Regions from separate parts of the Homo sapiens genome. Here region 1 is linked to region 2. Evidence: fine-mapped expression QTL. A gene starts in region 2. The other region holds a variant in brackets. All regions are shown on one strand. Distances are from middle to middle. Region 1 overlaps CCDC6 (coiled-coil domain containing 6). Region 2 holds the start of MRLN (myoregulin).

The links. PIP is the estimated chance that this variant, and not a neighbour inherited with it, causes the effect. A credible set is the group of variants that fine-mapping cannot tell apart.
Region 1: its variant is the best candidate, but not a certain one, in a credible set for the expression of MRLN in nucleus accumbens (GTEx, PIP 0.90).

What each region holds. Positions count from the first base shown.
Region 1 is chr10:59,790,925-59,796,405 of GRCh38, reverse strand. It overlaps CCDC6 (coiled-coil domain containing 6), which reads left to right. Exons shown (of 9, transcript NM_005436.5): 8 at 1,809-1,933; 9 at 3,295-5,481. The coding sequence ends at 3,489. Among named protein-coding and RNA genes, the nearest start is that of MRLN, 40 kb to the right of the region's middle. The variant G/A (reference allele first, on the strand shown) is at 3,390.
Region 2 is chr10:59,750,838-59,755,837 of GRCh38, reverse strand. MRLN (myoregulin) reads left to right here and starts at 2,383. Exons shown (of 3, transcript NM_001304731.2): 1 at 2,383-2,484.

The DNA.
Region 1 (5,481 bases), 40 kb before region 2:
AAATTTTTGCAACCTACTCATCTGACAAAGGGCTAATATCCAGAATCTACAATGAACTCAAACAAATTTACAAGAAAAAAACAACCCCATCAAAAAGTGGGCGAAGGACATGAACAGACACTTCTCAAAAGAAGACATTTATGCAGCCAAAAAACACATGAAAAAATGCTCACCATCACTGGCCATCAGAGAAATGCAAATCAAAACCACAGTGAGATACCATCTTACACCAGTTAGAATGGCAATCATTAAAAAGTCAGGAAACAACAGGTGCTGGAGAGGATGTGGAGAAAGAGGAACACTTTTACACTGTTGGTGGGACTGTAAACTATTTCAACCATTGTGAAAGTCAGTGTGGTGATTCCTCAGGGATCTAGAACTAGAAATACCATTTGACCCAGCCATCCCATTACTGGGTATATACCCAAAGGACTACAAATCATGCTGCTATAAAGACACATGCACAGGTATGTTTATTGTGGCACTATTCACAATAGCAAAGACTTGGAACCAACCCAAATGTCCAACAACGATAGACTGGATTAAGAAAATGTGGCACATATACACCATGGAATACTATGCAGCCATAAGAAATGATGAGTTCATGTCCTTTGTAGAGACATGGATGAAATTGGAAATCATCATTCTCAGTAAACTATCGCAAGGACAAAAAACGAAACACCACATGTTCTGACTCATAGGTGGGAATTGAACAATGAGAACACATGGACACAGGAAGGGGAATAACATCACACTCTAGGGACTGTTGTGGGGTGGGGGGAGGGGAGAGGCATAACATTAGGAGATATACCTAATGCTAAATAACGAGTTAATGGGTGCAGCACACCAGCATGGCACATGTATACATATGTAACTAACCTGCACATTGTGCACATGTACCCTAAAACTTAAAGTATAATAATAATAATAATAAAAATGAATAAGAAAAAAAATAATAATGGCCAACTTAACAGTTATGAGGTGATATCTCACTGTGGTTTTGATTTGCATTTCCCTGATGGTTAGTGGTGATAATCGTCTTTTCATATATCTATTAGCACATTTGTGTATCTTTTTTAGAGAAATGTGTATTCAAGTTCTCTGTGCATTTTTTCATTGGACTATTTGAGTGTGTTTGTTTGCTTTGAGTCATAGGAGTTACTTATGTATTTCGCATATTCACCCCATACCAGGTATATGGTTTGCAAATATCTCCTCCCATTCTATAGGTTGCCTTTTCAGTCTGTTGACTGAAAGTTTCCTTAGCGCAGACACTTTTTAGTTGAATGTAGTCCCACGTATTTGTTTTTGCTTTTTTTTTTTGTTGCCTATGTCATATCCAAGAAATCATTGCTAAGATCAATGTCAGGGAGCTTTTCCCCTATTTTCCTTCTAAGAGTTTTATAGTTTAAGGTCTTATAGTTAAGTCTTTAATCCATTTTGAGTTGACTTTTGTATATAGTGTAAGAGATAAGGTCCAGTGTCACTCCTCTGCATGTGAATATCCAGTTTTCCCAACACCATCTGTTGAAGAGACTGTTCTCTTTCCCCGTTGTGTATTCTTGGTGCCCTTTTTGAAGATCAGTTGACCATATACGTGTGAGTTTATTTCTGGGCTCTCTGTTCTATCCTAGGAATTAACATTTATTTCCCTTGTTATCCACACCATTTAGTGAGCCCATCATTCTTTTCATCTGTTTGTATTTTTGTGGGTGATAGAGAACTACTGCGATTTAAAACCTCCTAGATAGTTGAAGACACCAGATAGTTGAGCTTAAAATGATACTTAATTTGTTGTTATATTTTAGGTCTATCATATGCAAGTCACACGGTTGGTTTCACGCCACCAACTTCACTGACTAGAGCTGGAATGTCTTATTACAATTCCCCGGGTCTTCACGTGCAGCACATGGGAACATCCCATGGTATCACAGTAAGTGTCCGTGGGGTAGGAAGCAGCACTTTACTCCTGAAAGTGGTACCGACTGGTGTTCTGGAGAACAGGATCGGTGCCCTTAGACATTTGCCCTTCTTCCTGCCTCCTCCATCCGTTCACCTTGAAACTGTAGAGACTTAAACAGTTTGATACCAAATTCTGGTATTGAAACTAAAATCCTTCCCAGGAGACAAAACTTTAACTTCACTTCCTATGAAAAATTACCCTTTGTGAAATATAATTTGAACTCTGGCCAGTGCTTTGATTGAACTCTGGCCAGCTCCTTGCATTATTGTTGGTTGCCATAATGTCTAAAGATATTTATTGTCTGCACCTTCACAGTTCACTGACCTTCAGTATTCTTCCTGAAGTTAGCCTTGTTTGTAATGTTACTCAGAATTTTCTCTCCTCGAATTACAAGGAAGCTTAAGTGCATCTGGTTCCAACTCTACCCAAGGGAGTTTTTTCTTTAGAGTCGGCAATATAGTTGACTAATAGAGCCATTAGAAATGTAGCTAGTAGAGTGAGAGTATTATTAAGGGTATTTCCAATAACAGAAATACCAATATTTCAAAGAATAAATTATAATATTTTAAAGAAGAACCCTATTCTAAGAATGCACTTAAGGTATTTCTGAAGCTGTTTGGCCAGTTTGATGGACTTTATGTAAAAGTAGGAACTTTTTTTTTTTTTTTCCTCACTCTGTCATCCAGGCTGGAGTTCAGCAGCATGATGTCTGCTCACTGCAACATCCGCCTCCGGAGCTCAAGGGATTCTCTTGCCTCAGCCTCCCGAGTAGCTGGTATTACAGGCACACGGCACCACACCTGGCTGCTTTTTGTATTTTTAATAGAGACGGGGTTTTGCCCTGTTGGCCAGGCTGGTCTCGAACTCCTGGCCTCAGGTTATCCACCCACCTCTACCTCCTAAAGTGCTAGGATTACAGGTGTGAGCCACTGCACCCGGCCTCAAACATAGAAACATTTCTGTTGAGCTGTATCTTTCAGGATGTGGACAACTTATTGGAGATAAGCAATAGAGGGAATTGGTGACACACACGGAAAGAAAGATTTAAGGGGATATTTTACAGCTCTCGTTGAAGGACCCAAGTCCAGCAGTTTGTTCAACACAAGTTGTGCAGTAATTTTATGTAGCTTTTTCATAGGTGGAAGTGTAAACACTGCCTTATTTAAATTTTATTACTAGTTCAGAAACCAGTAGGGATGAAGAAAGAAATCCCTGGTTTCTTGTCTTTGTTGGTTAGTGTTTGATTAGCCCCAGTGCCAAGTCAGGCTGTGTTAGGTAGAATGAGATCCACCTGTACCTAGACTGACTTGCTGTTCCTGTCCCCTCTGCAGAGGCCTTCACCACGGAGAAGCAACAGTCCTGACAAATTCAAACGGCCCACGCCGCCTCCATCTCCCAACACACAGACCCCAGTCCAGCCACCTCC[G/A]CCTCCACCTCCGCCACCCATGCAGCCCACGGTCCCCTCAGCAGCCACCTCGCAGCCTACTCCTTCGCAACATTCGGCGCACCCCTCCTCCCAGCCTTAATGCATGAGCTTAGTCTGAATTTCAAGTTGGGACTCATCCAATGGAGCCGTCTACTCAACGCCAAAGGCTTCCTTCTCTGGCATATTTGGATATGACTTATTTGCACTGAGGTTATCTAGGCTTCACTATCCATTGTGTTGTAAATGTTTGTCAGAAATGCAGCCAGTGTTGTGGGTCTACAACACTAACCAGACGACTTTTTCCATCAGTGTTTTACTTGAATCTTCATGTACGTCCATTCCCTGGCTGGAACCTTCGCTGTTTGGTATTTGGTATTTCAGCAGCAGTGTGCAATTTTTGCTTGGCCCAGAGCTTCATTCTCCTGGCTTTTAGGTTTGTAAAAGAAAAAGGGATATCTTTTTTATATTTTTTTCCATGAATCTGCAGAAAATTACTGAGCTGTTGTTACCCTCCTCTCATTATAATAGTGTTTACCAAACATACCAATAATTCAGCACTACAATTCAGACCTTTGAAAATCTGGCTTTCAGTGTAGAACAGAAAGTTAGATGAATCAGTGCCCAAGACATATTTTCTGTTTAACAGAACTTTCTACAGATACATTTTTTACAGGTTATTTTCATTGTGTTATTGACATCCATGTCTCTCGTAAAACAGATGGCCCAAAGTAATGAATCATGTGGCTGTACCTTCTCCACATAAATGGGATGGATAATTATCGTATATTAAGATGTGATTCTCTTTTTTATCCTTAATGTTAATCTACTTAACCTGGCCCCCTCTAACATGAGTCGATAAATGTTGTCCTACTCACCGGTGGTTTCAATGGCTAATTAGAATGTGTTATTTGATTTCTGCTGCAGAAGGCAGTGTGATTGTAACAAAAACAATGCGGCTTCCCCCTTTCGTACTTCATTTGTGTTCTCTTAAAATAGAGTTTGAACAAATATTTTAAAGGTGCAAAATACCATTAGAAAATACTATTTGAAATGGACATTATCGCATTATCTTGGCATAATGGCCAGAAAATATTGTATTGCTTGGCAGAAAAGAAAATAAGGTCTAAAGGAAAGTAGCACATTAGCATTGATGGCTGTTCATTTCACCCAGTATAAGCAAGTGCAGTGTACAAAGAAGTATATTCTGAATACATTATTTCCATTCATTTAGCACAAATAAATCATTTGGTTTCACTTTGCAGTGGAACACTGAGTCACTCTTTTCTTAACACGTGCAACATCTTAATTTTTGTTTTTCAGCAGTTGCTGTTTTGTACTTTGGTAGTAAAGTGATTTTTACCACCTGTGTTTGCATATTTATATATGCTGTGGATGAAAATAACTTACTAGAGAATGTATATTTTATGACAAGAATGTGTATCTGTTGGATATAATCAGAGAACTGAAAAGTAATTTATCAGTAATTTTTAAGAGTCCATGTTTTGTGACAACCATCTCTAATAGCCAACTCTTTATTAAACACACTCCTAAAAATAAGGAACCATGACATTGTAGATATTTAATATTGTACAGTATAGAAACCTCCATTTTTGCCTTCGAATGCATATTTAAGAGTTAACAGAATGAAAAAAAAAAGTCTTGTTGGATAATAGTGTTTGACTAGCGTTTTAAGAACTTGAGAGTAAAAGCAACAATAAGATTTTTTCACCTCTTCCTGCTTCCACCCCCAAACTGAGAACATCACTCAATTGTTTGGAAGAAACTGTAGGTCTATATAAATTTTATTTATAATGTATGTGTAATATACATAATCATAATACAGTTCTCAGATGCAGGGAAGAAGTTTGGCATTTAATCATTGAGGCTTTAGGTTTTTGATGTGATCAGACTGGGCCATGTCAAACCCGGAATTTTCACCAACAGTTCACTCACCCTCCTGGTACATTGCCATTCCAAGGAATTCTGAGAGTAGGCAAACAAATTTTGCCTTCATGGTACAGTTCTCAGTTTTTCTTATAGGAGAAATATGGTATATGTTTATAAGAATCTTTTATGAGATTATAGATTTCAA
Region 2 (5,000 bases):
TCCTTGGCTTGTGGACACGTCACTCCAATATCTATTTCCTTTGTCACATGATGTCTCCCTATGTGCCTGACTATGTCCCCATTTCCCACTTCTCACAAGGACTCAGGTCATTGGATTAGGGCCCACCCTAATCCAGCATGATCTCATTTTGATTATATCAGCAAGGCCCTATTTCCAAATAGGGTCACATTCACAGGTACTGAGGACTTGGGCTTGAAAATGTCTCTAGGGGATGCAGTTCAACCCACAACAGCTAATAAGTGGTGGGCCTGGTGTTCTGAACACTCATCAGTCAGCTGCAGAGTGGAGTGTCCATGCCCCAGGGACCAGTAAAGATGACCCATTGGAAGTGTGGTAAGAAAATATTAGAATGTCTATTTATTTTTACATTTCTTCTTTTAAAAATTGTGTTTATATTTTATGATTTAAATGATATATTTACAATAGTATATGCATATGTTCTATAAATAAAAATACATATATTCAGTGGGTACTCAAAATTTTTTAATTGACCAGAGAATGGAAAAAAAAGAAAGGCCATATACCTATTCCACTCCTTCTCTCCCATCTATTAAACTGAGCGTCACTAGCATATCAGTTTCTCTTTTTCACAGTTGCCTCAGTAGAATAACATTCCACTGGGTGAGGTTTGTAGTGAGGTATCCACCCCACCGACCACAGCGTTTAGCTGAAAAAGGTTTAGTTTGACAAAAGAGCAGTTACTAGATCTGAGCCAGGGTGAGAAGTAGCTGGAACCTTAAGAATGAAGCAGTTGGCTGGGTGCAGTGGCTCACGGCTGTAATTCCATCACATTGGGAGACAGAGGCAAAGGGTCACTTGAGTCCAGGATTCAAGACCAGGCAAGACCTCATCTCTACAAAAAAAAAAAAAGAAAATTTAGCTGAGTGCAGTGGCGCGTGCCTATGGTCCCAGCTACTCAAGAGGCCAAGGTGGGAGGATTGCTTAAACTCAGGAGTTCAAAGCTGCAGTGGGCTATGATCATGATACTGCACTTCAGCCTGGGTGACAGAGTGAGTCCCTATCTCTATTGAAAAAGAAAAAAAGAAGCAATTTAACAATCTTTATGTATTTCAGTAACTTTTCTCTAATTGTCAGTTTTCTTTTTTATTTTTTGAGACAGAGTCTTGCTCTGTTACCTAGGCTGTAGTGCCATGGCATGATCTTGGCTCACTGCAACCTCTGTCTCCAGGGTTCAAGTGATCCTTCTACCTCAGCCTCCTGAGTAGCTGGGACTGCAGGCATGTGCCACCATACCTGGCTACTTTTCTGTATTTTTTTTGTAGATACTGGGTTTCACCATGCTGCCCAGGCTGGTCTCGAACTTCGGAGCTCAAGCCATCTGCCTGCTTTGGCCTTCCAAAGTGCTGGTATTACAGGCATGAGCCACCACTCCCAGCCACATAATTGTCAGTTTCTTTTAATACTTCAGACAGAACCAGTGTTTAATGTAATTAGGTATAAAGACATACTGTTAATATTATAAACAATTTGATGCCATTTATGGGGGAGGAGGGAAGGCACAGAATTTGGAATGTTTTGAAATATAAGTTTCCAAAAGAGGAGAGCCACTGCCAACCAGAAGTAAAGTGATGATTACACCTCCATTCTTACCACATGAATTTATGTATGATACAATCCCAAGATCCAGCCTCCAACCCCCACATGTACCTATATGTTTCCAGGAATTGTTTTGGGATCTCTAAGGGAAGCCAGCTGATATGCTCACAGGTAAACAAACTTTAAAAAGTTGATAACATGCATTTCAAAATCCATTTGTTGATAGATTTTTAAAATTGAGGAGTCAATATAAACAAGGTAAAATGTATAAATTTAAGAAGATATTCAGATGTCCATGGAAAATAATTGTTCAGAAGAGCAAAGGATAGTATAACATTAAATGAGTCATGGTGTCTTTTTGACATTCCTGATTTTTTGTATTATTATTATACTTCAAGTTCTAGGGTACATGTGCACAACATGCAGGTTTGTTACATAGGTATACATATGCCATGTTGGTTTGCTGCACCCATCAACTTCTGACTTACATTAGGTATTTCTCCTAATGCTATCCCTCCCCCCGGCTCCCACCCCCTCCCCGACAGGCCCTGGTGTGTGATGTTCCCTGCCGACATTCAGGATATTTTGTTGGTTGTTTAACTCTTCAAAAACTTGACATAAGGGTCTATTGATTGTGGAGGAACTGATCTCCTTCTCATGGGTTCTTTGAGCTCCTGTGTGGGCATAAGTATATCTTTGTTATAATTTGTTCCACCTGTGCCTGTCAATTTCTTTCCACTTGCCTCCTCCCGTGACATTCTGGCTCATGTTTCTTCATAAAGCTCTAAGCCAGTTATTAATAACAGACCAGTGAGCCTCCTGATCCACCAAGACCATATGGTGTTTTTCATAAAAGAGAGAGATCATTCCCTTGACTTTGGACTTCGCTTATTGAACCCCTGGACAGTAAGTGTTTTTTTTTTGTTTGTTTTGTTTTGTTTTTTAATGTAGCATTTTAAGACGTTGATTTTGGAGGAAAGTTTAGTGTGACTCTAAAGTTTATGTGCTTCTGATAGAGGGAGAACATAGTAGGCTAAAATTCACTTAGACTCATAAAGCCTATTTCCTATTCCCTGCAGCATCTCTCTGCTTTTTATAAGGCTGATTATAAAGAGAGACCAATGAATTAGATTTCTACTCCTCTCATTTTCTTTTGGTTAAATAAAGGCAGGAGGAGAAGCAAAGGATTAACGATATTTAAACTACTTGACCAAGACCTGTGGCTGCAGCTTGACCTGTCTCCTTGTATTTTCTCTCCAAATAGAATTCCAGTGATTTCAAAGAGAATTTTCACATATGAAAAGTATATGTAGGGGATTGGGGGGAGGAGTAGTTGGACAAGAGACCTGGGCACTTTTGTTTTTTTCCCCCTTGTTATAGGTTTGGATCAGAGAGGGCACCTGTCTTGTTCCATGGATTCATTCCTTCCTTGTTTTTTAGCCAGAGGCTTTCTTTGTCTTTGCAGCCTTCTTTATGCTGGGTGCTTCTGAGAGTCCTTCAAAGTAGGTCACTATGTTTTCTGTCTAGAAAAGGGGGACCCTGAAGCCCAGAAAGGCCAATGCCCCGCTTGGTTCTCTTGAGCAGGGTTAAAACCTGACACTCCAATCCTTCTTCAAGACCACAGACTAATATAGCTTTCTGCTTTGGTTATGTATGTTCAATTCTTGAACATGTGCACCAGGCTTCTAAATAAAATGTGTAAGGGAAGCATGACAGGGAACTGGAAGGAGGCAGATGTGGTCTTGTTGTTGAGCCCTGGCTTGGACCACATACAAGCTGTGTGATCCTAAGAAAGTACTCAACCACTCTGAGCCTCAGTTTGCTCATTTGTAAAATGAGAATCATAGTCTCTTTTACAACGTGGTGGGGTTTACTCAGTGTATATAAGAAGCCAAGTATAGTGACAGTGACTGTTATTTTAACAAATTTATAAATTCCTTCTTTGAATTTTTCCTGAATCTTCCTAATTATCTCTCATTTGTTTCCAATTTAAATCCAGAGCCTCCAAATATGGTTTTTGATGGGAAACATGAATTTAAACTGTAGAGGCGATATCTGACTTCTACTACTTTTAGTAACTTCATTTTTAGAATAGTGTAAACCATGCAAATGCTGAGGACAGGTGGATTGGAGGATGGTATATTGTTAGCAATCAAGACATTAAGTCTACAGCTAAGATCAGCGATGATGAGAAACCTCCCCAAACAACTTCAAAATATAAACTATTATTTCCATAAACGTATGTGCTCTATTATAATCAGCATTCTAACATTTTTCTTTTTGCTCTGTCTTTCTATGTTTCCAAAAGACTGGTTTCCACCCTTGCCACATTAGATTCTGTGTGTCTGGATAAGACAGAAAGAAGGATTGTCTCAATACCTGCTTTCCAAAGTGTTGCTCTGTAACTCAGGAAATATGATTGGATTTTTGTTTTCCTCTGTAAACTTTAATTGTGCAAATATGTATTTAATTCCTACCATGTGCAAGACACCATGTGCTAACCTAAAACGGGGTCTATAAAAGTCAGAATGGGCTTACTCATGGTTCAGTACTCCTCCTTGGGTATCACTTTTTTTTTTTTTTTTTTTTTGAGACAGAGTCTTACTCTGTCACCCAGGCTGGAGTGCAGTGGCTTGATATCACCTCACTGCAATCTCCACCTCCCAGGCTCAAGTGATTCTTCCACCTCAGCCTCCCGAGTACCTGGGACTACAGGTGTGCACCAACATGCCCAGCTAATTTTTTGTTATTATTTTTTTTTAGTAGAGACAGGGTTTTGCCATGTTGCCCAGCCTGGTCTCAAACTCCTGGGCTCAAGTGAACCACCGCCTTGGTCTCCCAAAGTGCTGGAATTATAGGTGTGAGCCACCGCACCTGGCCAAGTATCACCTTCTAAGTAATGACTTTGTGAAGAATAGAAGAGCAACACCTTAAAGTCATACCTCATCTGCCCTATGGAAAAAAATTGTCATTAAGCACTTACTTTGTTCCAAGCTCTGTGGAAAATGCTAGAGATATCATTTCTGCTCTAAAGGTGGTCATAGTCTGTCATTTAAACTTGAAATTCTATTCTCCAGCCTAACCATCTATTTTCAGCTAAACTTGACTCCAAAGAACAATCAGCTTGTTTCAGAAATCAGATCTGCACCTAAAAACATAAAGACATTGCCACCAGTGAATTTATACCAAGGAGTGTGTGTTGCAGGCCAAGTAGGCAGTTTAAAAGGTTTTGCCAAATGCCTTTGAATACTCAAAAAAGTCCAGAGATTTCCCCACTCCCCTCCATTCACCAACTCCAAATGGGAATGACACTCATTTGGATATCTGAGTTCTGCAGGTCAAAAAACACAAACAAGCCCCCCTAGTCCCATTTCTGCATCCTGCACCCGTTTCTGCATCCTGCACCCATTTCTGCATCCTCG